Linked DNA regions of Homo sapiens: region 1 is linked to region 2. The links come from fine-mapping of genetic effects on gene expression. A gene starts in region 2. The other region holds a variant in brackets. All regions are shown on one strand. Distances are from middle to middle. Region 1 has its middle 23 kb from the start of TCP11X1. Region 2 holds the start of LINC00630 (long intergenic non-protein coding RNA 630).

What was found. PIP is the estimated chance that this variant, and not a neighbour inherited with it, causes the effect.
Region 1: its variant is fine-mapped to the expression of LINC00630 in tibial nerve (GTEx, PIP above 0.99).

What each region holds. Positions count from the first base shown.
Region 1 is chrX:102,183,949-102,199,846 of GRCh38, forward strand. It overlaps the pseudogene TCP11X3P. Among named protein-coding and RNA genes, the nearest start is that of TCP11X1, 23 kb to the right of the region's middle. The variant A/G (reference allele first, on the strand shown) is at 7,358.
Region 2 is chrX:102,760,837-102,776,734 of GRCh38, forward strand. LINC00630 (long intergenic non-protein coding RNA 630) reads left to right here and starts at 8,317. Exons shown (of 12, transcript NR_146589.1): 1 at 8,317-8,505. All of the region lies in intron 8 of ARMCX5-GPRASP2 (ARMCX5-GPRASP2 readthrough), which reads left to right.

The sequences.
Region 1 (15,898 bases), 580 kb before region 2:
CCCCTACTCCTCTCCATGGAAGTGATGTTGAGTTAGGCTGTAGGACATGTTCCGTGCTGGAATGGAAGCAGTGAACTTGGACAGCTTGCTTTGAACTTTAGCATCTGATCATAGTCTGGATTGGGTGTATAGGCCTGAACTTGGTGCACTGGCTGCAACACATATTGTTACTTTCACGTACCGGGTCTACGGTCCTCTTGTTAAGTTAAACGTGCACTTGGATCTCACGTACAGCTACATAAAGTAATCTTATGAACCGCCAGGAATTTACTACCTCAGCATCTTTTGATCATGCACTGTCCTTTGGGAGCCTGATGGCATTCACTTCCCCAAAACAAACAAAAATCTAACTTATACGGTTTACCCAAATGAGCGGAGAGGTCAGTGAATAAACTGGTTAACGTAAAACTTTGGTGAGCAGATAGTGCAAAGACATTGTGAATTTCTTTAGTTCATGTCCTTTGTAGGGACATGGATGGAGCTGGACACCATCATTCTCAGCAAACTATCGCAAGGACAAAAAACCAAACACCGCATGTTGTCACTCATAGGTGGGAATTGAACAATGAGAACACTTGGACACAGGAAGGGGAACATCACACACTGGGGCCTGTTGTGAGTTGGGGGAGGGAGGAGGGATAGCATTAGGAGATATACCTAATGTAAATGATGAGTTAATGGGTGCAGCACAACAAGATGGCACATGTATACATATGTAATAAACCTGCACGTTGTGCACATGTACCCTAGAACTTAAAGTATAATTTAAAAAAAGAAAAGAAAAATGAGAACAACAAAAAAAAGAATTTATTCTGAACCCTCTTTTTTCCTCTCTTCATTGTTTTTCCCTGCTCACGGATCAGCGGATCTGTTTGTTTCTTAAATGCTGTTTGCTTCATGGCATGCAGGAGTCTCTGCTACACTTTCCTGGAGGCCTCATTCTCATTGAAGGGGAGCTGGCAGAACTGGGTTGGAAGTTTGTCATTCTGAAGTATCATAATCAGCAGGTATTTGGCCCGTACTATGCTGAGATCCTAAAAAACATCATCCATCCAGCTCAAGCACAAGAAACAGATAGTGCTGCACCCCAGCCATGGCAACAGGAGAGAAAGGTCAGTATGTTTCTGGAATGACATCACCTCCTCACTACAGCCAGGACACAGGGATGCAGGGGTCAAGCATGTAAACACCAACTGGCCCAATCCCCTTCACTAATAAACTTCTGAGCTGCAAGAAAATTTCAGTTCCTCCTGTGCTCTAGCTGAAGCCAGGTTCTACACCCTCATCCCCTAACTAGCTGAATGAGAATCCAGTGGGCCCTCCGGTTTCCCTTCACTGGCTGATCATTCTTCAGTATGCTGGCCTGAGCCAGAATCAGGGCATCAGGTACTGATAAGGGAAAATACTGGTACTGTATAGAATAATGCCTCCCCAAAACTGCGAAGGAGCTAAGAGACCAAAGAATGACCCAGACAAGTTCAGCTTGATAAGCAGATGAATTTATTGGGACTTACGGATAGGACATTCCTGGGTGGCAGCAGGACAGCTCCGGGGATCTGCCCTGACACTCCTCTGCAAACTGCTTTTAAGCTAATTTTCTGGCTCTTGCCTTCCACATGCAATGAGACTCTTTTTCTTGGTATGTTTCCCGGTATGCTCTGGGATGTTTTGATGTTTTGATTCTCAGGGACACCTCGGCTTCTAAGCTGGGCACCATGCATGGCCTTGGATCACCACCTGGCCTTCAGGGTTCAGGCAGCAGATGTACAGCCTTAAGTAATCTGGTGGAGGAGGGGGGATCTCATTAAACTACAGTCACTAGCATTATTTTCTCCATTGAAAAATCATTTTCTTGACGGACGGTGAAAACTCTTTGTGGGATTATCCAGAGAATGAATATAAGGGCTTCTGGAAGTCAGAAATTCACTGAATTGCAGATGAAGAGAAGACAAAACTCCATTTCTAGCACCATATTTCCCTTAAATTTTCAAGGATACAGCAATAGTAAGAGTTCTCAACTCCTGTCCTAGTGTCTGGTTTGAAGCAGTATGAAAAATGGGGATTGGTTGAAAATTGATATTGTGAATATCAACTTTGTGCCAACAGGCATTCAGCTAAGGACAGGTCTCAGCTTCCACGGGATTTCTCTTTCTTTCAAGTGATTCTAGGAGTCACTCCTAGTCTGGGGCTCCAACTGCCAGGTTATGAATATCAGCTGACTCAGCATCACAAATGATAAAAATGTTCTTGGTCCACAGGGACTTGGGTTTATTTTTAGAGACTGTGGAGGTTCACCCATCATTCTCAGGCCAACTGCAGCAGTCAAGCAGCAATCTAGAAAATTAGGAAAAAAATTAGGTTCGGAAGTTTTGGATTTAGAATGGACAGGGGAAAATAGAAACTTACTTATGGGATAGAACCAAACTGGGTGAAAAAAATCATGTCCTCATTATTTTGGGGGTTCAACTATGAGTGAGAACACACGGTGTTTGGTTTTCTGTCCTCGTGATAGTTTGCTGAGAATGGTGGTTTCCAGCTTCATCCATGTTCCTGCAAAGGACGTGAATTCATCCTTTTTTATGGCTGCGTAGTATTCCACATATGTACATGTGCCACATTTTCTAAATGCAGTCTATCATTGATGGACATTTGTGTTGGTTCCAAATCTTTGCTATTGTGAATAGTGCCTCAGTAAACATACATGTGCATGTATCTTTATAGTAGCATCATTTATAATCCTTTGGGTATATACCCAGTAATGCGATTGCTGGGTCAAATGGTAATTCTAGTTCTAGATCCTTGAGGAATCGCCACACTGTCTTCCACAATGGTTGAACCAATTTACACTTCCACCAACAGTGTAAAAGCATTCCAATTTCTCCACATCCTCTCCAGCATCTGTTGTTTCCTGACTTTTTAATTATTGCCATCCTAACTGGCGTGAGATGGTATCTCTTTGTGGTTTTGATTTGAATTTCTCTGATGGCCAATGATGACCAGCATTTTTTCATGTGTCTGTTGGCTGCATAAATGTCTTCTTTTGAGAAGTGTCTGTTCATATCCTTCGCCCACTTGTTGATGGGTTTGTATTTTTCTTGTAAATTTGTTTGAGTTCTTTGTAGATATTAGCCCTTTGTCAGATGGGTAGATTGCAAAAATTTTCTCCCATTCTGTAGGTTGCCTGTTCACTCTGATGGTAGTTTCTTTTGCTGTGCAGAAGCTCTTTAGTTTAATTAGATCTCATTTGTCTATTTTGGCTTTTGTTGCCATTGCTTTTGGTGTTTTAGACATGAAGTCCTTGCCCATGCCTATGTCCTGAATAGTATTGCCTAGGTTTTCTTCTAGGATTTTTATGGTTTTAGGTCTAACATTTAAGTCTCTAATCCATCTTGAATTAATTTTTGTATAAGGTGTAAGGAAGGGATCCAGTTTCAGCTTTCTACATATGGCTAGTCAGTTTTCTCTGCACCATTTATTAAATAGGGAATTCTTTCCCCATTTCTTGTTTTTGTCAGGTTTGTCAAAGATCAGATGGTTGTAGATGTGTGATGTTATTTCTGAGGCCTCTGTTCTGTTCCATTGGCCTATATATCTGTTTTGATATCAGTATCATGCTGTTTTGGTTACTGTAGCCTTGTAGTATAGTTTGAAGTCAGGTAGCATGATGTCTCCAGCTTTGTTCTTTTGACTTAGGATTGACTTGGCATTGCGGGCTCTTTTTTGGTTTCATATGAACTTTAAAGTAGTTTTTTCCAATTCTGTGAAGAAAGTCATTGGTAGCTTGATGGGGATGCCACTGAATCTATAAAGTACTTTGGGCAGTATGGCCATTTTCAGGATATTGATTCTTCCTATCTATGAGCATGGAATATTTTTTCCATTTGTTTGTGTCCTTTTTTATTTCATTGAGCAGTGGTTTGTAGTTCTCCTTGAAGAGGTCCTTCACATCCCTTGTAAGTTGGATTCCTAGGTGTTTTATTCTCTTTGTAGCATTTGTGAATGGGAGTTCACTCATGATTCGGCTCTCTGTTTGTCTGTTAATGGTGTATAGAAATGCTTGTGATTTTTGCACATTGATTTTGTATCCTGAGAGTTTGCTGAAGTTGCTTATGAGCTTAAGGAGACGTTGGACTGAGACAATGGGGTTTTCTAAATATACAATCATGCTGTCTGCAAGCTGGGACAATTTGACTTCCTCTTTTCCTGATTGAATACCCTTTATTTATTTCTCTTGCCTGATTGCCCTGGCCAGAACTTCCAACACCACAATGAATAGGAATGGTGAGAGAGGGCAGCCTTGTCTTGGGCAAGTTTTCAAAGGGAATGCTTCCAGTTTTTGCCCATTCAGTATGATATTGGCTGTGGATTTGTCATAAATAGCTCTATTATTTTGGGATACGTTCCATCAGTACCAAGTTTATTGAGAGTTTTTAGCATGAAGGGCTGTTGAATTTTGTCAAAGGCCTTTTCTGCATCTATTGAGATAATCATGTGGTTTTTGTCAAAGGTTTTGTTTATGTGATGAATTACATTTATTGATTTGCATATGTCGAACCAGGCTTGCATCCCAGGGATGAAGCCGACTTGATCGTGGTGGATAAGCTTTTTGATGTGCTGCTGAATTCAGTTTGCCAGTATTTTATTGAGGATATTTGCATGGATGTTCATCAGGGATATTGGTATAAAATTCTCTTTTTTGTGTGTGTGTCTCTGCCAGGCTTTGTTGTCAGGATGAGGTTGGCCTCATAAAATGAGTTAGGGAAGATTCCCTCTTTTTCTTTTTTTTATTTTTATTTTTTATTATACTTTAAGTTTTAGGGTACATGTGCACATTGTGTAGGTTAGTTACATATGTATACATGTGCCATGCTGGTGCACTGCACCCACTAACTCGTCATCTAGCATTAGATATATCTCCCAATGCTATCCCTCCCCCCTCCCCCCACCACACAACAGTCCCCAGAGTGTGATATTCCCCTTCATGTGTCCATGTGATCTCATTGTTCAATTCCCACCTATGAGCGAGAATATGCGGTGTTTGGTTTTTTGTTCTTGCGATAGTTTACTGAGAATGATGATTTCCAATTTCATCCATGTCCCTACAAAGGACATGAACTCATCATTTTTTATGGCTGCATAGTATTCCATGGTGTATATGTGCCACATTTTCTTAATCCAGTCTATCATTGTTGGACATTTGGGTTGGTTCCAAGTCTTTGCTATTGTGAATAATGCCGCAATAAACATACGTGTGCATGTGTCTTTATAGCAACATGATTTATAGTCCTTTGGGTATATACCCAGTAATGGGATGGCTGGGTCTAATGGTATTTCTAGTTCTAGATCCCTGAGGAATCGCCACACTGACTTCCACAATGGTTGAACTAGTTTACAGTCCCACCAACAGTGTAAAAGTGTTCCTATTTCTCCACATCCTCTCCAGCACCTGTTGTTTCCTGACTTTTTAATGATCGCCATTCTAACTGGTGTGAGATGATATCTCATTGTGGTTTTGATTTGCATTTCTCTGATGGCCAGTGATGATGAGCATTTTTTCATGTGTTTTTTCTATTGATTGTAATAGTTTCAGAAGGAATGGTACCAGTTCCTCCTTGTACCTCTGGTAGAATTCTGCTGTGAATCCATCTGGTCCTGGACTTTTTTTGGTTGGTAGGCTATTAATTATTGCCTCAATTTCAGAGCCTGTTATTGGTCTATTCAGAGATTTGACTTCTTCCTGGTTTAGTCTTGTGAGAGTGTATGTGTCCAGGAATTTTTCCATTTCTTCTAGATTTTCTAGTTTATTTGCGTAGAGGTGTTTATAGTATTCTCTGATGGTAGTTTGTATTTCTGAGAGATCGGTGGTGATATCCCCTTTATCATTTTTTGTTGCATCTATTTGATTCCTCTCTCTTTTCTTCTTTATTAGTCTTGCTAGCACTCTATCAGTTTTGCTGATGTTTTCAAAAAACCAGCGCCTGGATTCATTGATTTTTTGAAGGGTTTTTTTGTGTCTCTATCTCTTTCAGTTCAGCTCTTATTTTAGTTATTTCTTGCCTTCTGCTAGCTTTTGAATGTGTTTGCTCTTGCTTCTATATTTATTTTAATTGTGATGTCAGGGTGTCGATTTTAGATCTTTCCTGCTTTCTCTTGTAGGCATTTAGTGCTATAAATTTCCCTCTACACACTGCTTTAAATGTGTCCCAGAGATTCTGGTATATTGTGTCTTTGTTCTCATTGGTTTCAAAGAACATCTTTCTTTCTGCCTTCATTTTGTTATTTACCCAGTAGTCATTCAGGAGCAAGTTGTTCAGTTTCCACGTAGTTGTGTGGTTCTGAGTGAGTTTCTTAATCCTGAGTTCTAATTTGATTGCACTGTGGTTGAGAGACAGTTTGTTGTGATTTCTGTTCTTTTACATTTGCCAAGGAGTGCTTTACTTCCAATTATGTGGTCAATTTTAGAATAAGTGTGATGTGGTGCTGAGAAGAATGTATATTCTGCTGATTTGGGGTGGAGAGTTCTGTAGATGTCTATTAGATCTGCTTTTTGCAGATCTGAGTTCAGGTCCTGGATATCCTTGTTAACCTTCTGTCTCGTTGATCTGTCTAATATTGACAGTGGGGTGTTAAAGTCTCCCATTATTATTGTTTGGGTGTCTAAGCCTCTTTTTAGGTCTCTAAGGGCTTGCTTTATGAATCTGGGTGCTCCTGTATTGGGTGCATATATATTTAGGTTAGTTAGCTCTTCTTGTTGAATTGATTCCTTTACCATTATGTGATGGCCTTCTTTGTCCCTTTTGATGTCTGTTGGTTTACGGTCTGTTTTATCAGAGACAAGGGTTGCAACCCCTTCTATTTTTGCTTTCCATTTGCTTGGTAAATCTTCCACCATCCCTTTACTTTGAGCCTATGTGCCTCTTTGCATGTGAGATGCATCTCCTGAATACAGCACACTGATGGGTCTTGACTCTTTATCCAATTTACCAGTCTGTGTCTTTTAGTTGGAGCATTTAGCCCATTTACATTTAAGGTTAATATTGTTATGTGTGAATTTGGTCCTGTCATGATGATGTTCACTGGTTATTTTGCCTGTTAATTGATGCAGTTTCTTTTTTTTATTATTATTATACTTTAAGTTTTAGGGTACATGTGCACAATGTACAGGTTAGTTACATATGTATACATGTGCCATGCTGGTGTGCTGCAACCATTAACTTGTCATTTAGCATTAGGTATATCTCCTAATTTTATCCCTCCCCCATCCCCCGATCCCACAACAGTCCCCAGAGTGTGATGTTCCCCTTCCTGTGTCCATGTGTTCTCATTGTTCAATTCCCATCTATGAGTGAGAACATGC[A/G]GTGTTTGGTTTTTTGTCCTTGTGATAGTTTACTGAGAATGATGATTTCCAATTTCATCCATGTCCCTACAAAGGACATGAACTCATCCTTTTTTATGGCTGCATAGTATTCCATGGTGTATATGTGCCACATTTTCTTAATCCAGTCTATCATTGTTGGACATTTGGGTTGGTTTCAAGTCTTTGCTATTGTGAATAGTGCCGCAATAAACATACATGTGTATGTGTCTTCATAGCAGCATGATTTATAGTCCTTTGGGTATATACCCAGTAATGGGATGGCTGGGTCAAATGGTATTTCTAGTTCTAGATCCCTGAGGAATCACCACACTGGCTTCCACAATGGTTGAACTAGTTTACAGTCCCACCAACAGTGTAAAAGTGTTCCTATTTCTCCACATCCTCTCCAGCACCTGCTGTTTCCTGAATTTTTAATGATTGCCATTCTAACTGGTGTGAGATGGTATCTCATTGTGGTTTTGATTTGCATTTCTCTGATGGTCAGTGATGATGAGCATTTTTTCATGTGTCTTTTGGCTGCATAAATGTCTTCTTTTGAGAAGTGTCTGTTTATATCCTTTGCCCATTTTTGATGGGGTTGTTTGTTTTTTTCTTGTAAGTTTGTTTGAGTTCATTGTAGATTCTGGCTATTAGCTCTTTGTCAGATGAGTAGGTTTTGAAAATTTTCTCCCAATTTGTAGGTTGCCTGTTCACTCTGATGGTGGTTTCTTTTGCTGTGCAGAAGCTCTTTAGTTTAATTAGATCTCATTTGTCAATTTTGGCTTTTGTTGCCATTGCTTTTGGTGTTTTAGACATGAAGTCCTTGCCCATGCTTGTGTCCTGAATGGTAATGCCTAGATTTTCTTCTAGGGTTTTTATGGTTTTAGGTCTAACATTTAAGTCTTTAATACATCTTGAATTAATTTTTGTAGGAGGTGTAAGGAAGGTATCCAGTTTCAGCTTTCTACATATAGCTAGCCAGTTTTCCCAGCACCATTTATTAAATAGGGAATCCTTTCCCCATTGCTTGTTTTTGTCAGGTTTGTCAAAGATCAGATAGTTGTAGATATGCAGCGTTTTTTGTGAGGGCTCTGTTCTGTTCCATTGATCTATATCTCTGTTTTGGTACCAGTACCATGCTGTTTTGGTTACTGTAGCCTTGTAGTATAGTTTGAAGTCAGGTACCGCAATGCCTCTAGCTTTGTTCTTTTGGCTTAGGATTGACTTGGTGATGCGGGCTTTTTTTTGGTTCCATATGAACTTTAAAGTAGTTTTTTCCAGTTCTGTGAAGAAAGTCATTGGTAGCTTGATGGGGATGGCATTGAATCTATAAATTACCTTGGGCAGTATGGCCATTTTCACGATATTGATTCTTCCTACCCATGAGCATGGAATGTTCTTCCATTTGTTTGTATCCTCTTTTATTTCATTGAGCAGTGGTTTGTAGTTCTCCCTGAAGAGGTCCTTCACATCCCTTGTAAGTTGGATTCCTAAGTATTTTATTCTCTTTGAAGCAATTGTGAATGGGAGTTCACTCATGATTTGGCTCTCTGTTTGTCTGTTATTGGTGTATAAGAATGCTTCTGATTTTTGTACATTGATTTTGTATCCTGAGACTTTGCTGAAGATGCTTATCATCTTAAGGAGATTTTGGGCTGAGACAATGGGGTTTTCTAGATATACAAGCATGTCATCTGCAAACAGGGACAATTTGACTTCGTCTTTTCCTAATTGAATACCCTTTATTTCCTTCTCCTGCCTAATTGCCCTGGCCAGAACTTCCAACACTATGTTGAATAGGAGTGGTGAGAGAGGGCATCCCTGTCTTGTGCCAGTTTTCAAAGGGAATGCTTCCAGTTTTTGCCCATTCAGTATGATATTGGCTGTGGGTTTGTCATAGATAGCTCTTATTATTTTGAGATACGTCCCATCAATACCTAATTTATTGAGAGTTTTTAGCATGAAGCGTTGTTGAATTTTGTCAAAGGCCTTTTCTGCATCTATTGAGATAATCATGGGGTTTTTGTCTTTGGTTCTGTTTATATGCTGGATTACATTTATTGTTTTGCATATATTGAACTAGCCTTGCATCCCAGGGATGAAGCCCACTTGATCATGGTGGATAAGCTTTTTGATGTGCTGCTGGATTCAGTTTGCCAGTATTTTATTGAGGATTTTTGCATCAATGTTCATCAAGGATATTGTTCTAAAATTCTCTTTTTGGGTTGTTTCTCTGCCCGGCTTTGGTATCAGGATGATGCTGGCCTCATAAAATGAGTTAGGGTGGATTCCCTCTTTTTCTATTGATTGGAATAGTTTCAGAAGGAATGGTACCAGCTCCTCCTTCTACCTCTGGTAGAATTCGACTGTGAATCCATCTGGTCCTGGACTCTTTTTGGTTGGTAAGCTATTGATTATTGCCACAATTTCAGAGCCTGTTATTGGTCTATTCAGAGAGTCAACTTCTTCCTGGTTTAGTGTTGGGAGAGTGCATGTGTTGAGGAATTTATCCATTTCTTCTAGAGTTTCTAGTTTATTTGCATAGATGTGTTTGTAGTATTCTCTGATGGTAGTTTGTATTTTTGTGGGATAGGTGGTGATATGCCCTTTGTCATTTTTTATTGCATCTATTTGATTCTTCTCTCTTTTCTTCTTTATTTGTCTTGCTAGCGGTCTATCAATTTTGTTGATCCTTTCAAAAAAACAGCTCCTGGATTCATTAATCTTTTGAAGGGTTTTTTGTGTCTCTATTTCCTTCAGTTCTGCTCTGATTTTAGTTATTTCTTGCCTTCTGCTAGCTTTTGAATGTGTTTGCTCTTGCTTTTCTAGTTCTTTTAATTGTGATGTTAGGGTGTCAGTTTTGGATCTTTCCTGCTTTCTCTTGTGGGCATTTAGTGCTATAAATTTGCCTCTACACACTGCTTTGAATGTGTCCCAGAGATTCTGGTATGTTGTGTCTTTGTTCTCATTGGTTTCAAAAAACATCTTTATTTCTGCCTTCATTTCGTTATGTACCCAGTAGTCATTAAGGAGCAGATTGTTCAGTTTCCATGTAGTTGAGCGGTTTTGAGTGAGTTTCTTAATCCTGAGTTCTAGTTTGATTGCACTGTCGTCTGAGAGACCGTTTGTTATAATTTCTGTTCTTTTACATTTGCTGAGGAGTGCTTTATTTCCAATTATGTGGTCAGTTTTAGAATAAGTGCGATGTGGTGCTGAGAAGAAACTATATTCTGTTGATCTGGGGTGGATAGTTCTGTAGATGTCTATTAGGTCCACTTGGTGCAGGGCTGAGTTTAAGTCCTGGATCTCCTTGTTAACATTCTGTCTCGTTGATCTGCCTAATGTTCACCGTGGGGTGTCAAAGTTTTCCATTATTATTGTATGGGAGTCTAAGTCTCTTCGTAGGTCTCTAAGGACTTGCTTTATGAATCTGGGTGCTCCTGTATTGGGTGCATATATATGTAGGATAGTTAGCTCTTCTTGTTGAATTGATCGCTTTACCATTATGTAATGGCCTTCTTTGTCTCTTTTTATCTTTGTTGGTTTAAAGTCTGTTTTATCAGAGAGTAGGATTGCAACCCCTGCCTTTTTTTGTTTTCCATTTGCTTTGTAGATCTTCCTCCATCCCTTTATTTTGAGTCTGTGTGCATCTCTGCACATGAGATGTGTCTCCTGAATACAGCACACTTGAGTCTTTATCCAATTTGCCAGTCTGTGTCTTTTAATTGGAGCATTTACCCCATTTACCTTTGAGGTTAATATTGTTATGTGTGAATTTGATCCTGTCATTATGATGTTAGCTGGTTATTTTACTTGTTAGTTGATGCAGTTTCTTCCTAGCATCGATGGTGTTTATAATTTGGCATGTTTTTGCAGTGGCTGGTACTATTTGTTCCTTTCCATGTTTAGTGCTTCCTTCAGGAGCTCCTGTAGGGCAGGCCTGGTGGTGACAAAATCTCTCAGTATTTGTTTATCTGTAAGGGATTTTATTTCTCCTTCACTTATGATGCTTAGTTTGGCTGTATATGACATTCTGGGTTGAAAATTCTTTTCTTTAAGAATGTTGAATATTGGCCCCCACTCTCTTCTGGCTTGTAGAGTTTCTGCTGAGACATCAGCTGTTAGTCTGATGGGCTTCCCTTTGTGGGTAACCTGACCTTTCTCTCTGGCTGCCCTTAACATTTTTTCCTTCATTTCAACTTTGGTGAATCTGACAATTATGTGTCTTGGAGTTGCACTTTTTGTGGAGTATCTTTGTGGTGTTCTCTGTATTTCCTGAATTTGAGTGTTGGCTTGCCTTGCTAGGTTGGGAGAGTTCTCCTGAATGATATCCTGAATAGTGTTTTCCAAGTTGGTTCCATTTTCCCTGTCACGTTCAGGTACACCAATCAGATATAGATTTGGTCTTTTCACATAGTCCCATATTTCTTGGAGGCTTTGTTCGTTTCTTTGTACTCTTTTTTTCTCTAAACTTCTCTTCTTGCTTCATTTTATTCACTTTATCTTCAATCACTGATACCCTTTCTTCCACTTGATCAAATCAACTACTTAAGCTTGTGCATGCGTCACATAGTTCTCATGCCATGGTTTTCAGCTCCATCAGGTCATTTAAGTTCTTCTCTGCACTGTTTATTCTAGTTAGCCTTTTGTCTAATCTTTTTTCAAGGTTTTTAGCTTCTTTGCAATGTGTTCAAACATCCTCCTTTAGCTTGGAGAAGGTTGTTATTACTGATCGTCTGAAGCCTACTTCCATCAACTTGTCAAAGTCATTCTCCATCCAGCTTTGTTCTGTTGCTGGTGAGGAGCTGCGTTCGTTTGGAGGAGAAGAGGTGCTCTGATTTTTAGAATTTTCAGCTTTTCTGCTCTGGTTTCTCCCCATCTTTGTGGTTTTATCTACCTTTGGTCTTTGATGATGGTGATCTGCAGATGGGGTTTTGGTGTGGATGTCCCATTTGTTAGTTTTCCTTCTAACAGTCAGGAGCCTCAGCTGCAGGTCTGCTGGAGTTTGCTAGACGTCCTCTCCAGACCCTGTTTGCCTGGGTATCACCAGCCAGGGCTGGAGAAAAGCAAATATTGCAGAACAGCAAATGTTGCTGCCTTATATTTCCTCCAGAAGCTTTGTCTCAGAGGGGCACCCGGCTGTATAAGGTGTCAGTTGGCCCCTACTTGGAGTGTCTCCCAGTTAGGCTACTCTGGGGTCAGGGACCCATTTGAGGAGGCAGCCTCTCTGTTCTCAGATCTCAAACTCGCTGTTGAGGGAACCACTACTCTCTTCAAAGCTGTCCAACAGGGATGTTTAAGTCTGCCGAAGTTTCTGCTGCCTTTTGTTCAGCTATGCCCTGCCCCCAGATGTGGAGTCTTCATAGGCAGGCAGGCCTCCTTCAACTGCGGTGGGCTCCACCCAGTTCGAGCTTCCTGGCCGCTTTGTTTACCTACTCAAGCCTCAGCAATAGTGGACGCCCTCCCCCAGCCTCACTTCCTCCTTGCAGTTTGATCTCAGACTGCTGTGCCAGCAGTGAGCAAGGCTCCTTGGGTGTGGGACTCTCCGAGCCAGGCACAGGATATAATGTCCTGGTGTGCCATTTGCTAACACCATTGGAAAAGAGCAGCATTAGGGTGGGAGTGTCCCAATTTTCCAGGTACCATCTGTCACCGCTTCCCTTGGCTAGGAAAGGGAATTCCCCGACCCTTTGCACTTCCCGGGTGAGGCCATGCCCCGCCCCCGCCGCCCGCTTCAGCTCACACTCCGTGGGCTGCACCCACTGTCCAACAAGCCCCAGTGTGATGAACCTGGTACTTCAGTTGGAAATGCAGAAATCAGAAATCACCCGTCTTCTGCATCACTCACGCTGGGAGCTGTAGACTGCATCTCTTCCTATTCGGTCATCTTGGAACCTCCTCCCTCAGGAATTTCTTTATAGCAGTGTGAAAACAGACTAATACAGGCGGTAAGCTAGAAAGGAATAGTATCTGGCTGCATTGGTTTAAACCATTTACTGATCCTAAGCACAAAGCATTGTTATGTTCTACCCCCAAATATACTTTGTAAAAGTACTAACCTGCAACATAAATACAAGAAATCAATTCTGAATCTTTGCATGATTGCAACTTTCTCACTTTTATCAAAATATCAAATTCTTTAAAAACTAAAACACACATCACCTGTCTCCTCCTTTCCTTTCATTTCCTTCCTTTCTCTCCTTTCTCTTCCTTTTCCTTCACTCTCTCTGTTATGCTTGTTCCCTGAGCACATGTTTAGAATGTTTACTGGGAGAATTAATAAGGGTATAAAGATAATCATTACAAAATCAATTAAGAGAGAAATTAAGCTGATTTAGGATATGCTGTACATATTGGCATCTAGAAAATCTCTGATGTCCTTAACAAAAACATAGGCAGAAGAGGAGCAGAGCAGGTCATCACACATTTATGGGAGTGTAAACAGGGGAGGAGGAAATTGATACATCACATACAGGTGATTATGATAATTAATCTCCACAGACAGTTAATATGGCAGGGGGGTAGGCAAGTACCGGGCTTTATTGCAGGGATGGGAGAGGGGTAGGGTATGGTGTCCCTATTATTATTCCAATTTTACAGATGAGGACAGTTGAAGCACAGAGGTATTAGGTCACTTAGCTAAGTGGTCACCGAGCTTGTATATAGTGAAATGATGATTTGTCTCTGTCAGTCTCACTCCACATTCTGTGTCCTAATCACTAAGGAGGTAGCCAAAAGTAAATTGACATTAATTCAGACTTAACTAATTACCAGCCTTCCAGAGCCCTGCCACAGACAGATGATCTACAAGTCCATGACCTATACCTCTCATAGTGTTTCCCCCCGCTAACACCACATCCCTCTCTACCAATAACAGCCAGGGCCCTTATCAGACACTGAATCTGCCAAATTTGTCCACAAACCCTGAGGAAGTCTCCCTCCCTCCACCAACCCTCTGTGTCCCTCTGCCACTTGGACCCATTTGGCTCCCTCAGTGTCCAATTTGCTGAGTAAACTTCTAATATTTGCTATCACTCCTGATACCCAAGTACTGTCCACTGAGGCAGGATGTAAAATTTGGTAGAAAGGTTGGGATCTGAGCCACAGTCCGATCAAAGTTTTGCCTGAGCATGGACTACAGTTCTGACAATTTTCTGCATCTGTAGGTCTGAATTTACAGAGGGCTAAAAGATTAGATCCAGTTCAGAAGTTTCTATTAATGGGCTAGGCATGGTACATGGCCATAGGACTGTGACCATGCCCACAGGATTCATGTGACTTCACCTGGATGAGAGAGCTGAACCTGCCACACAATAGTGAGGGCCATAAGGGGGGCAATATTCACATGACTCATAGGGTTCCAAAGTCTACAGTTTTTACACAATACAAAGAGTTTAGCCTGCCTAATGACTATAAGGGAGCACATGATCAGAGTGCTAAGGTCTGAATATTTGTGTTCCCCCAAAATTCATATGCTGAAATCCTAAACCCTAAGGTGATGTTATTAGGAGCTGGGACTCTGGGGAGTTGATTAAGTCATGAGGGTAGAGCCCTCATGAATGGGATTAGTGTCCTTTCAAAATAGGCCCAAGAAAGATCCCTTTCCCCTTCCTCCATGTGAGGTTAGAGTGAAAATATGGCCAGTGCCCTTATCAGACACTGAATCTGCCAGTGCCTTGACCTTGGACTTTCCAGCCTCCAGAACTGTGAAAAATAAATTTCTGTTGTTTATAGACTACACAGTCCATGGTATTTTGTTATAGTAGCCCAAACAGACTAAGCCACATGGTATCCATGTGACCAACAGCAGTAGAGTACCTGTGGTGCCCACATAATTATGAGGGCCTCATTGCCACATGAAAGTAGGAGGCCACATGATTGTAGTATTCACATGAGCCATAGCATTAGAAGCCTGCAATGTTCACTTGCCTGGAAGGGCTATTTCTGCCTCATGACAATAGAGTTCATTGGCAGTAGTGTCCTAGTGTTCTGCATGCTTCAGGGGTCTATCTGATTCATGACACATGGAGATCCGGGATTGCCTATGTTCCTGGGCTCCACAGTGAAGGTGGTGCCTCCAGGTGGCCTTCACAGCACATGAACTTCGCCTTTAGCTACCCCATCCCTTTTTATTGTGATCATTTAATATGCTGTTTTCTACTAACACATTAAATTTAATACATAACAAATTAACACATAACAGTAAAATAGGTCCTTCATAAAACTATAACCACAGTCATAACATAGGGAGTGCTGCAAGAACCTAGGCATGGTATTTGGTACAGATTAAGTACTGTTGATTTAATGCAGGCTTAAAGGAAATTAAAGCAAACCAATTAAGTCTGTTTTAATTATTATGTTGATAAAAAGTATAATGATTAAAATGTTCCAGGTACTTTAAAAGGTTAACACATTTAATTGTCATAACTTTATGACATTTGTGCTATTATTATTCCAATTTTACAGATGAGGACAGTTGAAGCACAGAGGTCACTTGGCTAAGTGGTTACTGAGCTTGTATATAGTGAAACGATGATTTGT
Region 2 (15,898 bases):
AGCTCAAATACATTAATGTCATTAAAGTACTGAACATGGTGTCCAGCATAGAAATGTAGGCTAGGGTGGACCTTCATGCTTTTTGTTCATCTGTCTTGACGTTGAAACTCCTTTTGGGTCTGGCTTTACTTGCTGCTCATATAACCAATTTCTACATGTTTTACCATTTAAAACATGCGTTTAATAAAGGGGAACAAAAGCTAAGCTCTAAATTTTGGTTGAAACTGCAGATTTTGATACAGTTTATAAAAACGACTATACTTCAGTTTGAGAAACTCATGTAAGGATGAAAAAAGACTGGAGACTCTCAATTCTGTATGCCATATGCATTTATTTAACAAATATGTATGGAATGTCTATTATATGCCAGGCTCCAGAAGCCCTCAAACCATATCTTTATTACAGAAATTTCTTCAGGGGTCCAGACCCATGAATTCAAATACCTATGAGCAATTTATATCTAAAGCAGTGATTCCCATTCAGGAGCAATTATGCTCCTTAGCTCCAGGGACATGGAAATGTCTGGAGACATTTTTGGTAGTCACACCTGGGGGTGCTACTGGAATCTTATGATTAGTGGCCAAGGAGGCTGCTGAACATCCCCCAATGCCTAGGACAGCCCCCACAGCAAAGAACTCTCCAGCCCAAAATGTCAATAGTGCTGAGGTTGAGAAAACCTGCTCTAGAACAGGGCAAATGTTACTACCCACACCTATCTGCAAAGGTTCATGGTGGAACCCAAGGTTGGGGTCTGACCACCCTGGATTCAAATAACCATGCTGCCTCTTATTGGGCGTGTGTCCTTGTAAAATATATTTAACCTCCATTAGCCTTAGGAGAGCCTGCTTCTGGGGAGGAATAAGTTTAAGCAGGGAATATTGATACCTAACTTACAGAACAGTTGTAAGGACTTAGAGAAACAGTATGTGAAGTGCCTAACACAGTGTCTGGCCCATTGTAGGCCCTTGAAATGTTAGTTTTCTTTCCATCCCCCTTTCTAACTTCTGCTTCTGAGATGACTTTAACCTAAACTACATAGTGCTAAGCAGCATAATTGTGTTCTAAAGAGCTTCTGAAAGCAAGGCAACAGAAAGAAAAATAAACTCACACAGACCCACATTATGTGTAAGAGTTGGTGCCTCTTCTGTGTTGTGGCATCGTGCATTGTAGGTGGCATGGGGAAATGTCACCCCATTTCTTTAGAATCAGTGTACCTTTCCTGACCTCTTTGGGCCCCCCTTGGAGAGTGAACATCAGGAGTGGCCATTGACTGGTTATCTGGGTTGTTCCTGTGGCTCCATAAAGACACATGCCCAGGGAAGAGCAGAGCATGAGGATGGGTCTTCTGGAGAGAGCAATGGAGTGAAAGGCAGAAGATGTCGCTTCCAGAGCCTGACAAACTGCTTTCTGTGTGATGTGGGTAAAACATATACCTTCTCCTGGCTACAGACTTGGTGTTAGGGCATGTGAGTTGAGGGGATCTTCTAGCAGGCCAATTTTGGGTATAAATCATTTGGCTTGTCTCTTTCCAAGCATTTCTGCCATCATATAAGTTCTCATATTCTAGTGCTGCTGAAGGATTAAATGAATTAAACTATCTCATAGGAAATCTGGGACATTGCTGAGGCAGAAGGTCAAAGTGTGCTGGTGGGACTCCTAGATGGCCCTTATCACTTCTGCTTGGGAGGGGCACACTCCATTTCCCCTCATAGCTCACTGGCCACATCTAGTCACATGCCCAGGTCTGATGTCAGTGGAGTGGGGTCAGTGGGTGCCTCAGTGCACTTGAGCTGCCATAACAAAATACCTGAAAGTGGGTAATTTGTAAACAACAGAAATGTATTACTCAAAGTTCTGGAGGCTAGGAAGTCCAAGATCAAGATGCCAGAATATTTGTAGTGTGGTAAAGACTCCGTCTGCATCATAAATGACACCTTCTTGCTGCATGCTCACATGGTGAAGTGGCAAACAGGTTCTCTCAGGCCTCTGATAAGGACACTAATCCCATTTATGAGGGCTCTGCCTTCATGGCCTAACTACCTCCTAAAGATTATTAGGTTTCAACATATAAATGTGTGGGAGACACAAACATTCAGACAAAAGAAGTGGGCCTAAGAGGGACCCTAAGGACCTGCCGGTACATGTAACTTCACAGCTAGGTTTCATGGGCCAGAAAACAAGATTTCATCTCCACTATCATCTTCCTCAACATGAGGGGTTATTGAGTGAGTACCTTTAGGGGACAATACTAGGGAAATGTAAAACTTCCAAATGGGAAGCTGCTGGTTTTATTGTGGGGAGGGAAAGAATGGAATCACATTCCATTTCTGCCACTTCTCTGGAGAGGGTCTTAGTCCCTTTGAGAAGGAGCTTGGTCATCTGTGAAATAAGACGCACCACATTATCTTCTTCAGAGTACTGTCCTGAGGGATAAATGAGAAAACCTGTCAAGTGCCTATGGGAGATAGTAGGACTTCAGCACATAACAGGTCTGGCTATTTGCCCCCTCCCTCCCAGAGAGTAGATGACATTGACCTAAACCAAAGGGCATTACTGCTATTGAGACCTTGTGGAAAGGTAGCAGCAAGAGCTGAAATATATCCCCATAACCTATGAGCTTTGGGCCAGTTCTGAGTTGTGGGATGAGTTACATGTGAGAGCTGGGGAAAAGGAAAAATAAATCACCATACCATTTCCTATAACTGCATCTGCCTTCCTATCCTCTTAATTTATCATTCAGTTTGACACTGGAGGAGCAGTTTCCCATTAACTTTAAGGTAGAAGGGACACCACAGGGCAATATGACAAGAATACTGGACGGAAGACTAGAGTCATAAGACCAGACACATTATGATCCACGATTATGTTCTGTTATATGGCAAAAGGGAGATGATCAGCATAGGCCTGACCTAATTAGTCAAGCCCTGTAAAATCAGAGAATTTTCTCCTGCTGTTTAGAGTAGGGCAAGTCAGAGATTCAAAGCACAGGAAGCCTTCAATGTGCCATTGCTGGATGGAAGAAGGAGGCCACATGGCAGGCAAGTGGACTAGCCCCCAGGAGCTAAGAATATCCCCAACTGACAGTCATCAAGGAAATGGGGACTGCGGTTCAATGGCCACAAGGAAATGACTTCTGCCAGCAGCAAGAATGATCTTGGAAGCAGATTTTTATCTAGATCATCCGCGTGAGACCTCAGTGGAGCCAACATGGGCACCTTGATTCTAGCTTTGTGAGACCTTGAGCAGAGAATAAGGTCATGCTGGACCAGTCTTCTGACCTACAGACCTGTGAGCTACTAGATGGATGTAGCTTTCAGACACTAAGTCTGGTTACACACCTACAATAAATTAATACATTCCAGTTAAGTTAAATCTATTCAATGCATACACAGTATTTTTGTTTACATGTACACATGTGTATAGATGATAATTGGTGGAAACATAATTACAGTTTTTATTAGTGCATGGTGGGGTTAGATATTATCAATATTCATATTGGTATTTGAATGCACTTTCCACATTTTTTAAATAGACAGTGGGTTACTTATTAATCAGAGATAAAACACATTAGAGCTTTGTTCATGTCAAATTTGATAGATTTCAGACTTTTCAAAAGGTATTGTAAATATGATAGTAGGCAAACACGTACACAACCAAGGTTATGAAGCAAAACATTACAGAGTGGACTCTCCTGTGTGAGTTCCCTGATTGCCTCAGCGCCCTCAGAAGGAACCACTATCCAAAATTTCTTGTTTAGTCATGAATACATCCCTAAACTAAACACATAATTGCTTTGCATATTTTTATCTCTATATAAGTAACATATTTATATATCTATTATCGAAATGTTTTCTTCTGAAAATAGTGTTTCTGAGATGTTTCTAACCAGGTGACTTTGGGACTATTTTGATATTTACCCATGCTCCTGTGAACAGGTTTGCTATGTACCGAGACTCTGCAATGCACATCTGAGAGGGCAGCAGATGACAGAGCCTCACATGCTTCTATTGTGGGTGCTGCTCAATATCTCCACAAAGAAGTTGTACCAATTTGTCCGCTCCAAGCTATGTATGGGCTTCTCGTGGCCCCAACATTTCAATTCAAACAGGATGCAACATAAACACAAATTCGATGATTGGGTTTTCTTTTCAAACTCTAGAATTATTCCAAGACATATTCTAAGGTATAATATGGAACCATTAGCTAAGCATTTTTAATGCACCTGTGAAATACACTATTTAAAACATAATACGATAGGGAAAAATAAAGAAAATCTAATGTACCAATAACAGGATCTCAGAATAAAAAATATTAAAAATCTGTGAAACCTATTTTTGCACAGATCAGGAAAAACAGATGTTTTCAAATTGTTGGATGGAATATAAGAACTATTAAAGAAATTTTAAAGTTCAACTATATAGGAAGCATTAAAAATATTAAATGGTCATGCTCTTTGACAAAACAGTTCCACTTCTGGGAATGTATCCTCCTGATATGGCCTCAAGAGTCTCCTGCTGTAACCACTCGTGTCCACACTGCTCAGGGCTGAGATGACCATTTCCTTAGTTGGCCCAGTGCCTTCATGTCCCAGATCCTGAGTCATCTACCCCTGGATCAAAACAGGAAAATCAAATCTGAATCATGGATGGATGCCCAGACTCGAAGGACCATCCACTAATTCACCACAAACATTGATACAGAGCAATGCTCAGGTCCCAACTCCTGGAGAGATTTGTAGACCTCAGGCCTCATCCCTGTCTGGGAGAAATCTTCCTTCCTCTCCCATCTTTGTGTCCTGAGAGGCCCCCACATCCCTACCAGGTACAAGCAGCCCGGTCCTTTCAACAAATTAAGTTTTCATAAAGGATGAAAGAAAAACTGGCTCCAGAAGGCTTCTGCTGTCAGCCCTCTCACAAACCTCCCCTGAAGTAAGGAGAGGGGGCACCAACCTTACTGCAGGGAGGGTAAGCAAGGAGAACAGAGATTAACCTCCTTAACAGTACATGTCCAGATACATTTGCTAAAGGTCTACCACTAGCAACTCAAGGTGCCCAGGCTGGCAGGTTCTATCCCTGGCTCTGGCAGTGGGCCTGGTGAGTAACCTCCTTGCCATTCAGCTCTGTGTTTAGGAGCACGTGCTTTATAGTCACTGACATCCATGAGGAAGAGAGGATACTGGTACCTCACCAGCACGGCTGTCATGAGATTAAATCCAGACACTAATGTGAAGAAACTGGAGCTGGGCCCAGCTAAACCATCTGCCTTACAAAATAGTAGCTGTCTTTTCCTCCTCCAAGCAGGGAACTCATGTTACTCTGAGCTGCCACCTCAGCCAGGGCCCCTTAAGAGGGCGCACATCGTAGTCACCTTGATGAGTCTTTTCTAAACCCTCAGCTGAAACTCCCTTGTTGGTGGAAAAATAGGACTTTGGCATCAAAGATCATTAATGTCTTAAGTTATAATATGAGCCTTGGAAAACAGATATATCCACTTGGCACCAACAGTATATGTGAGCGTCTGCTGGCTTTTCATTCCACCAACACCAAGTATTACCAACTTTTGTCCTTATTGCCAATCCAATCTGCTCATTTTCCCCAGACCTGTCCCATTGGAAGAATCAGCTCAGATGGTCATTAAACTTAGAGATTCACAGGGTCATCCCCTGCAATTGCCAGATTTAGCAAATAATAAGACGATTTAAAATTTTTATTTTGTTATTTATTTCATTTACTTTTATTTATTTAATTAAAATCCAGTTGGATTTTAATTTTAAATAAACTAATATTGCATGCCACATAAACTAAAAAATATTCCTATTAATCCGGAATTTAAAGTTAACTGAGTTGATTTTAATCTGGTAACTGTACACGTGGAGGGCTCTGTGGAGAGCCAAGATGCTCAGGTCAACAGCCTTAACTGAGCTCCCAGCAGACGCCAACACCAGTCATCATTCATGTGAGTGAGCTCTCTCAGATGTCCCAGATGAGTGGAACCTCCAGATGACTGCAGCCCCAGGTGACAGACATCATATAGAGCAGAAAACATCCAGCTGGGCCCAGTTAACACACAAAATACTGAGAGAAAATAAATGGCTATTAATTAAGGGTGCTTGTTAAGAAGGAACGGATATCTAAAACATTATGGTTTTGGTGAACTTTTCCTCATTTTCTGTGTTGTGTTATCATTGGGTAAGAAAGGAATTTTCTTATCCTTGAAGGCTTAGTGAAACTTGGTTATAATTGTATCATCTGAGTGTTGGCTTACATGTGGGTACAGATTTCTGAACATGTCATCAATTCCTTCTTGAAGGGATTCCCAAGGGCAATTTACATGATATCTATTTTTCATGCTAGTCTTAAAATTTGAAACCTAACTCCTTAAGAAGAATTCCCACTGCAATCATGTGAATTAAGATACTGAGAGGGCATTGCTACAAACCATTCTATGAGGAAACCTGAGAGGTTGTCTTAGTGAGTATTCATTCTGAACAATTTTAGAAGTGTTTCTCAAAGAAAGTGTCCTGAAACACTTTCTCCTGCTATAGTGATAACCCTTGGCAAGGAAGTAACTTTCCTTGGGCACACATAGACAGGGCTCCTTTAGGAGACAGCAGATAGATATACATTGCAGTCCTTGGTCTTTATGACTGTCCCAATGCAGCACTGCTGGGTGGATAAGTCAATTCTAGAACTTACTCATAGTAAGCCCACGTGACAGCAAATCTAAGTCACATTCTCCAATATCACCTTATAAGAGATAAAGTCAATATATGTTTCTCCTTATTCTTTTCCTATGTTTCTCAGTTGGTTTAGAGCTCAGACTAGAAGCAGAAGAGTATTTTGGGGGCCCCTTAAAGAATTAAGCATTGTGAATCAAGAACTATAGGAATAATTGTAGAGTCAGTGAGACACAGTTAGAGGAGTAAACCTGTGGGCCTATTTTAAGTCCCATCCCTGAAGGCAAAGCTGAACAAGTGCCTCCTGAAGGGCAGCTTACTACCAAGAAGTTGAAGGGAGAGGGCTTGGGCAGAGTATCATGTGTCTCCTTCCAGATTCTCCAATCGGATAAGTCATTCCTGCCGTAGAGAGGAGTGAGTGTGTAGAGGCTACATGTATTTTTGTCATGGATGTATTTTCCACATGGAAAAACATACCAGGAATGAAGGATAAGAATTTCCTTAAGGCAGGGCTGGGTGCGGTGGCTCACGCCTGTAATCCCAGCACTTTGGGAGGCCGAGGCGGGTGGATCACGAGGTCAGGAGATCGAGGCCAGCTTGACTAACATGGTGAAACCCTGTCTCTACTAAAAATATAAAAATTAGCTGGGTGTGGTGGTAAGCGCCTGTAATCCCAGCTACTCGGGAGGCTGAGGCAGGAGAATCGCTTGAACCTGGGAGGCAGAGGTTGCAGTGAGCTGAGATTGCGCCGTGCACTCCAACCTGGGCGATAGAGCGAGACTCCGTCTCAAAAAAAAAAAAAAAAAAAAAAATTTCCTTAAGGCAAACTACTGTGTGTTTTAATTGACTGGATTCCTGCCTACTAAATGATTATATTATTCTAGTCCGGCCTCCCTGAAATAACTGTATTATTACTCAAATGACAGTTTTTGTGTTTCTAGATCATTCAGTCACTTGATTATAAACAATCTGTTTTCTGCCACAGAAAACCAACTGCCTAGTATAGTGTGTGAGTTGTACATGTTCCTCCTCAGAGGGCTAGCTCATCTCCCAGAGTCCTAGGACACCTCTCTGGGCTTCTGTGTACTGATGATACTCCTCTAAGGTCACTTTTTTTTTTTTTTTTTTTTGAGAATCTCGGCTCACTGCAAGCTCCGCCTCCCGGGTTCACACCGTTCTACTGCCTCAGTCTCCTGAGTAGCTGGGACTACAGGCGCTCGCCACCACGCCCGGCTAATTTTTTGTATTTTTAGTAGAGATGGGGTTTCACCGTGTTAGTCAGGATGGTGTCGATCTTCTGACCTCGTGATCCTCCCGCCTCGCCCTCCCAAAGTACTGGGATTACAGGCATGAGCCACCGCGCCCGGCCCCCTTAGGTCACTTTTAAAGCAAAATTCCTGACAACATGGACTTCCTTTCCTCTACCATAATGAGTAGAGAGTCTTGAAAATTGCCCGGATCCCAGCCTCTAATTGGTATGTTTTCTCAGGGAGTTATCTGAAGAATGAAGGTGTTTTGCTTTAAGGGATAGGCTGGGGATGGAGGAGCGGGTTGTGCATAGTCATTTTCAGGTGTGGAAGACAAGCCAGTGCTACGCGGTTGCCATAGTAACCTGACGTCATATTAGCGACGGTGACGACTTTTTATTGAGACCAATTTGGCCTGGGGAGAACCGCCTTCAGGCGTTTGGACTCAGTGGAGGTTGTGAGTGCCCAGCAGTGTGGCCTGAATCTCCGTGGGGTTTAGGGAGACGAAAGGACCCCAGATCGACGTCCCCTCGTTCCCACTTTGGGGATCGGCGCTCTGGCTGTTTCGTGAAGGAGAGAGAGGTGGGTCTCTTCTGGCCCCAGTGAGTGTGGTGTCCTGCTCCAGGGTGTCCCGGGGCTACTTTCCCTGTAAAGGCGGGACGCGGGAGGATGAGACAGGTAAAGACCCTCTCTGAGCCCAGTTTCCCACTCTGTAAAATGGAAATAAAAATGCTCACCCACAGGATTGCTGAAACCTTCAGTGATAACATAGGTGCAAGACGATAGCCCTGTGGTTATTGCAGGATCAGGAATGCCTGTATGAAGTCAGGCCTCTTCTTGTTCTGTTTCAAACTTTCTTACAGTATAGACAAGGGAGAAACTTTATGTTTAACATGCATTTATGATAAGTTTATATATATATTTCTGACTGCATAAATAATAACCAGTGATTCCCATCAACACTATCAAATGAATGTTGAAATATAAAGTTAGTTAGAAGGCCTTCCTACCAATTTGAGATTATAATATGCATTCTCCCATATCTGTTGTATAATAAATTTGTTTATGAACTATAACTTATAAAGTGTCAATTAAAAAGTCATATGATGTTTTGATATATTTTATACATTGTAGAATGGCTGAATCAAGCTAATAAACCTATGCATTACCTAATGTACTTTTTTTTGTGGTGAACACTTAAAATCTACCCTTTTAGCAGTTTTCAAGTGTACAATATATTTTTATTAACCATGGTCACTATGATGTACAATAGATCCCTTGAATTTATCCCTCCTCTCTAACTGAAATTTTGTATCCATTGACCAACATCTCCCCAAACCCCTCCCCAGCCTCTGTCTGGTAATTACTGTTCTACTCTCTGCTTCTATGAGTTCAACTTATTTAGATTCCATATACAAGTGAGATTACGTGGTATTTGTCTTGCTGTGCCTGGCTTATTTCACTTAATGTCCTCCAGGTTCATCCATGTTGTCACAAATGACAGGATTTCCTTCTTTTTTCAAAAAGCTGAATAGTACGCCATTGTGTGCATGTATGACATTTTCTTTATTCATCTGTTGGTGGATACTTAGGTTGATTCCATACCCTGGCTATTGTGAATAATGCTGCAGTGAACATGGGAGTACATACATCTGTTTGAGGTACTAATTTCATTTCCTTTGGATATATACTCAGAAGGGGGACTGCTGGATCATTTGGTAATTCTATTTTTAGTTTTTTTCAGGAATGACCATACTGTTTCTGTAATATCTGTATAAATTTACATTCCCAGTATTGTACAAGGGTTCCATTTTTTTCCACATCCTTGTGAACACTTACCATCTTCTGTTTTTTTAAATAATGGCCATCCTAACAAGTGTGAGGTGATATCTTGTTATGGTTTTAATGTGCATTTCCCTGACAATTAGTGATATTGAGAATTTTTTCACATATCTGTTGGCCACTTGTATGTCTTACTTTGAAAAATGTATATTTTATTATATATGGACACATGATTATTGTACATATTTATGGGGGTACACTGTGATATTTCAATATATGTATACAATGTGTAGTGATAAAATCAGGGTAGTTAGCATATCCATCATCTCAAATCTTTATCATTTATATGTGCTGGTAACATTCAACATTTTCTCTTCTAGCTATTTGAAAAAATACATTAAATTATTGTTTGATAATTTAGTATAATGCTATAGAACACTAGAGATTATTCTTCCTATCCAGGGTCTGGAGTATGGGCTAGCCTTCAATGGATGTTAATCTAGTGTCTGGAGTACAGACATGTGCAAAGTGACCTTGGCTTAGGGGCCCGGATCCCAGCCTAGTTCCTCTAATTGGTATGTTTTCTCAGGGAGTTATCTGAAGAGTGAAGGTGTTTTGCTAGGTCTCTATGGCAGTGGCTCTGGTGTCTGAGGCATGGGCAGGCACAGTCAGGCACAGAGCTGGGGTCTGGAGTATGGGTATTTACAGAGTAGTTGTAGCTTGGGGGGGTCAGTGACACATGCAGCATTGGGACAGGTGGCACCTCTGGTCCCAGAGTGGTATAATAGCTGCTGCTTCTTGAGATGAGAAGTGTGTAGCCACTTCTCCCTCTCTGGGGTTCCTTGGGCAGGAATGGCTGTTGGTTATCTCAGTGGCGAAAGATGCCAGTGTCCTCTCCAGAGCAGACTGCTGGGGACCATGGTGATTCCTGCCACATGGCTAATAGCAATAGCCTTTGCCTTTCTTCTTTGCTCCTAGACATCTCCTGGCACCTCAAGTATACTGATCTCACCAGCAATATTTTCTGTGTGGATATTCCCCATTTTTTTTTCTACTGTGTTGCTGCAGATTCTTAAATGGGCCCCTGAGCCCTCCCATGAATACTTTAGTTTGTGGATAGCTGTCTACACTTGTTTTTTTGTGGCAGGGGGTGATGAAGGCTGATATCTCCTACTCTGCCCTCTTGGTCCTTCAGTATCTAGTTTGCCCTATTCTAATGATACCCTGCCATGTCCCCTAAAGGAACCGTATAGGCTTATATATCATTGTTATTATTTTCAAGGACATAACATTTTCAGTTCTGTTGTACCCAGCCTACCCATTCCTCCCACTGTCCTGTCTCCAGACAAATACAGCACTTTTGTCATTATAGATTAGATTTCATTTATTTAAAAATAATCATAGAGGTTTTTTTTTTATTTTTTTTTTTTAGGGATCTGGCTTCTTTCATTCACTCTATGTATTTTTAGATTTGTCCATTTTATTGCCTATTTCAATAGTTTTTTTTTTTTTATTACAGAGTAGCATTACAGTATAGGATATACTACAATTCGTTTTGTCCATTCACTTGCTAATGGATATTTGGGTTGTATTCAATTTAGGGGATCTTGTGTATGAGTCTTTACAGAGAAATGTGCTTTCTTTCTCTAGGGTAAATACTTAGGATTGCAGTGGCTGGAACATGTTATAGATGTAAGACTAACATTGTAAGAAACTGCCAAACTGTTTTCAAAGTGGTTGTACCATTTTTCATTGTCTCAGCAGAGCTTCATCCTCCACAACCTCGTCAGTGCTTGGTATGGTCAGTCTCTAACTTTAGTGATTCTCATGCGGCGATAAAACAAGACGACCCAATGGAGCTTAATTAGGCCACACACAAAAAACATTAACTATTTAAAGGAATAATATTTAATCTACTGGGCTAAAAATTTCAGTTGGGGTAACTTCAGAGCACCGTACAACCTCTGAATGATTAAAACCCGGACTAGACTAGTTATTCATAAAAGTGTGTTATAATTTATTGACCCAAGCAATTTGATCAATAGAACAAGTTACCCTAGGGATAACAGCATGATCATATCTTAGAGTTCATATCAACCATAGGGATTTACAATCCTGATGTGGGATCAGAACATCTCAATAGTATAACAGCTATTTTTTTTTTTTTTTTTTTTGAGACGAAGTCTCGCCCCGTCGCCCAGGCTGGAGTGCAGTGGTGCAATCTCGGCTCACTGCAACCTCTGCCTCCCAGGTTCAAGCGATTCTCTTGCCTCGGCCTCCCGAGTAGCTGGGACTACAGGCGCCCGCCACCTCGCCTGGCTGATTTTTTGAATTTTTAGTAGAGACGGGGTTTCACCGTGTTAGTCAGGATGGTCTGGATCTCCTGACCTTGTGATCCGCCCGCCTCAGCCTCCCAAAGTGCTGGGATTACAGACGTGAGCCACCGCGCCTGGCCAGCAGCTATTAATTGTTTATGTTTTCAGTGACCAAAGTCCTACATGATTTAAGTTCAGGATCTGGGTTGGTTTCCACCTATTTAATATTTCTCCCAATACAAAAAGAGAAGAGAATTATGGCACACAAAAAGCACCCTCAATTCAAAAGATGATATAATCTAGATCTAATTTATTATTATACACTTTGCCCCAAAACAGGGCTTGTTAAGATGGTAGAGCCTGGTAATTGCATAAAACTTGAAATTTTATAATCAGAGGTTCAATTACTCTTCTTTTTAAAATAATTGTTTATTTTATTTTTATTTTTTGTGGGTATACAGTAGGTGTATGTATTTATGGGGTACATGGGACGTTTTGATACAGGCATGTAATGCATATCAATCACATCGTGGAAAATGGGTATCTCCTCAAGAATTTATCCTTTCTGTTACAAAAAAATCCAATTATACTCTTTTAGTTGTTTTAAAATATACAATTAAGTTATTATTGACTATAGTCACCCTGTTGTGCTATCAAATACTAGGTCCGTTTCATTCTATTTTTTGTACTGGTTAACCATCCCCCATCTCTCCCCAACCCTCCCCAATTCCTTTCCCAGCCTCTGGTAACCATCCTTCTACTCTCTATCTCCACAGGTTAAATTGTTTTGATTTTTAGACCCCACAAATAAATAAGAACATGCAAGGTTTCTCCTTCTATGTCTGGCTTACTTCACTTAACATAATGATCGCCAGTTCCATCCATGTTTTTGCAAATGACTGGATCTCATTATTTTTTATGGCTGAGTAGTACTCCATCGTGTATAAGTACCACATTTTCTTTATCCATTCATCTGTTGATGGACACAGGCTTCTTCCAACTCTTGTCTATTGTGAACAGAGTGGCAACAAACATGGGAGTGCAGATGTCTCTTCAATATACTGATTTCCTTTCTTTTGGGTATATATCCAGAGTAGGATTGCTGGATCACATGGGTAGCTCTATTTTCAGTTTTCTGAGGAACCTCCAAACTGTTCTCTACAATGGTTGTAGTAATTTACGTTCCCACCAACAGTGTACGAGGGTTCTTTTTTCTCCACATCTTCACCTGCAATTGTTATTGCCCGTCTTTTGGACATAAGCCATTTTAACTGAGAAGGGATGATATCTCATTGTAGTTTTGATTTGCATTTCTCTGATGATTCATTACGTTGAGCACCTATATATGCCTGTTTGTCATTTGTATGTCTTCCTTTGAGAAATGTCTATTCAGATATATATATATATTTTTTTTTTTTTTTTTTTTTTTAGACGGAGTCTTGCTCTGTCAGCAGGCTGGAGTGCAGTGGCGCAATCTCGGCTCACTGCAACCTCCACCTCCTGGGTTCAAGCGATTCTCCTGCCTCAGCCTCCCGAGTAGCTGGGACTACAGGCGCATGCCACCATGCCCAGCTAATTTTTGTATTTTTAGTAGAGATGGGGTTTCACCATTTTGGCCAGGATGGTCTCGATCTCTTGACCTCGTGATCCACCCACCTTGGCCTCCCAAGGTACTGGGATTACAGGCATGAGCCACCGTGCCCGGCCTGCCCATTTTAAATTCAGATTATTATATTTTTTCCTATAGAACTATTTGAGATACTTATACATCTGGTTATTAATTCCTTGTCAGATGGGTAGTTTGCAAACATTTTTACCCATTCTGTGGTTGTTTCTTAACTTTGTTGATTGTTTCCTCTGCTGTGCAGAAGCCTTTTAACTTGATGTGATGCTATTTGTCCATTTTTGCTCTGGTTGCCTGTGCTTGTGGGGTATTACTCAAGAAATTTTTGCCCAGACTGATGTTCTGGAGAGTTTTCCCAAAGTTTTCTTGTAGTAGTTTTATAGTTTGAGGTCTTAGATTTAATTCTTTAATCCATTTTGATTTGATTTTTGTACATGATGAGAGATAGGGGTCTAGTTTCATTCTTCTGCATATAGGTATCCAGTTTTCCCAGGACCATTTATTGAAGGTACTGTCTTTACAGTATATGTTCTTGGCACCTTTATCAAAAATGATTTCACTGTAGGCGTATGCATTTCTTTCCGGGATCTCTATTCTGTTCCATTCATCTATGTGTCTGTTTTTATGACAGTAGTATGCTGTTTTGGTTACTATAGCTCTGCAGTATAATTTGAAGTCAGGTAATGTGATTCCTCCACTTTTATTCTTATTGCTCAGGATCGCTTTAGCTATTCTGGGTCTTTTGTGGTTCTATATCCCTTTTAGGGTACTTTTTTTCTATTTCTATGAAGATTGTCATTGGTATTTTGATAGGAATTGCATTGAATCTGTAGATTGCTTTGGGTAGTATGGGCATTTTAACAATATTGATTTTTCCAGTGCCTGAACGAGGGATATTTTTCCATCTTCTGGTGTCCCCTTCAATTTATTTCATCAGTCCTTTGTGGTTTTCATTATAGAGGTCTTTCACTTCTTTGGTTAATTCCTAGGTATTTTATTTCGTTTGTGGCTATTGTAAATGGGATTACATTTTTATTTTTTTTTTCAGATTGCTCACTGTTGGCATATAGAAATGCTACTGATTTTTCCATGTTGATTTTGTATCCTGCAACTTTACTGAATTTATTTATTAGTATGAATAGTTTTTTGGTGGAGTCTAGGTTTTTCCAAATATAAGATAATGTCATCTGCAAACAAGGATGATTTTAATTCTTCCTTTCCAACTTGGAGGCACTTTATAGCTTTCTCTTCTTTGGATGCTCTAGCTAAGAGCTCCAGTACTGTATTAAATAACAGTGGTGAAAGTGGCCGGCCATATTATGTTCCAGATCTTAGAGAAAAGGCTTTCAATTTTTTTTCCCATTCAGTATGATACTAGCTGTGGGTCTGTCAATATGGGTTTTATTATGTTGAGGTATGTTCCTTCTACCCCAGTTTTTTAGGGTTTTTATCAAGAAAGAGATGTTGAATTTTATCAAATGCTTTTCCAGCATCAATTGAAATGATCATATGGTTTTTGTCTTTCTGTTGACATGATATATCACATTGATTGATTTGCATATGTTAAACTGTCCTTGCATCCCAAAGATAAATCCCACTTGGTCATGATGAATGATCTTTTTGATGTATCATTGAATTGGGTTTTGCTGGTATTTTGCTGAAGATTTTTGCATCAATATTCATCATAGAAATTGGCCTATAGTTTTTTTTTAGTGTGTTTTTGTCTGGTTTTGGTATCAAAATAATACTGTCCTCATAGAATGAGTTTGGCAGTATTCCTTCCTTCTGTTTTTTGGAATAGTTTGAGTAGGATTTGGGTATTAGTTCTCTTTAAATGTTTGGTAGAATTTAGCAGTAAAGCCATGGGGTCCTGGACTTTTTCGTTACTGGGTGTATTAGTCTGTTTTCACACTGCTGATAAAGACATACCCCAGACTGAGACTGGGCAATTTACAAAAGAAAGAGGTTTAATTGGACTTAACAGTTCCACATGGCTGGGGAAACCTCACAATAATGGTGGAAGGCAAGGAGATACAAGTCACACCTTATATGAATGGCAGCAGGCAAACAGAGAGAGAGAGCTTGTGCAGAGAAACTCCCATCTTTAAAACCATCAGATCTCATGAGACCGGTTCACTATGACAAGAACAGCATGAGAAAGACCTATCCCCATAATTCAAACATCTTCCCCCAGGTCCCTCGCACAACATGTGGGAATTATGGGAGCTACAAGATGAGATTTGCGTGGGGACAA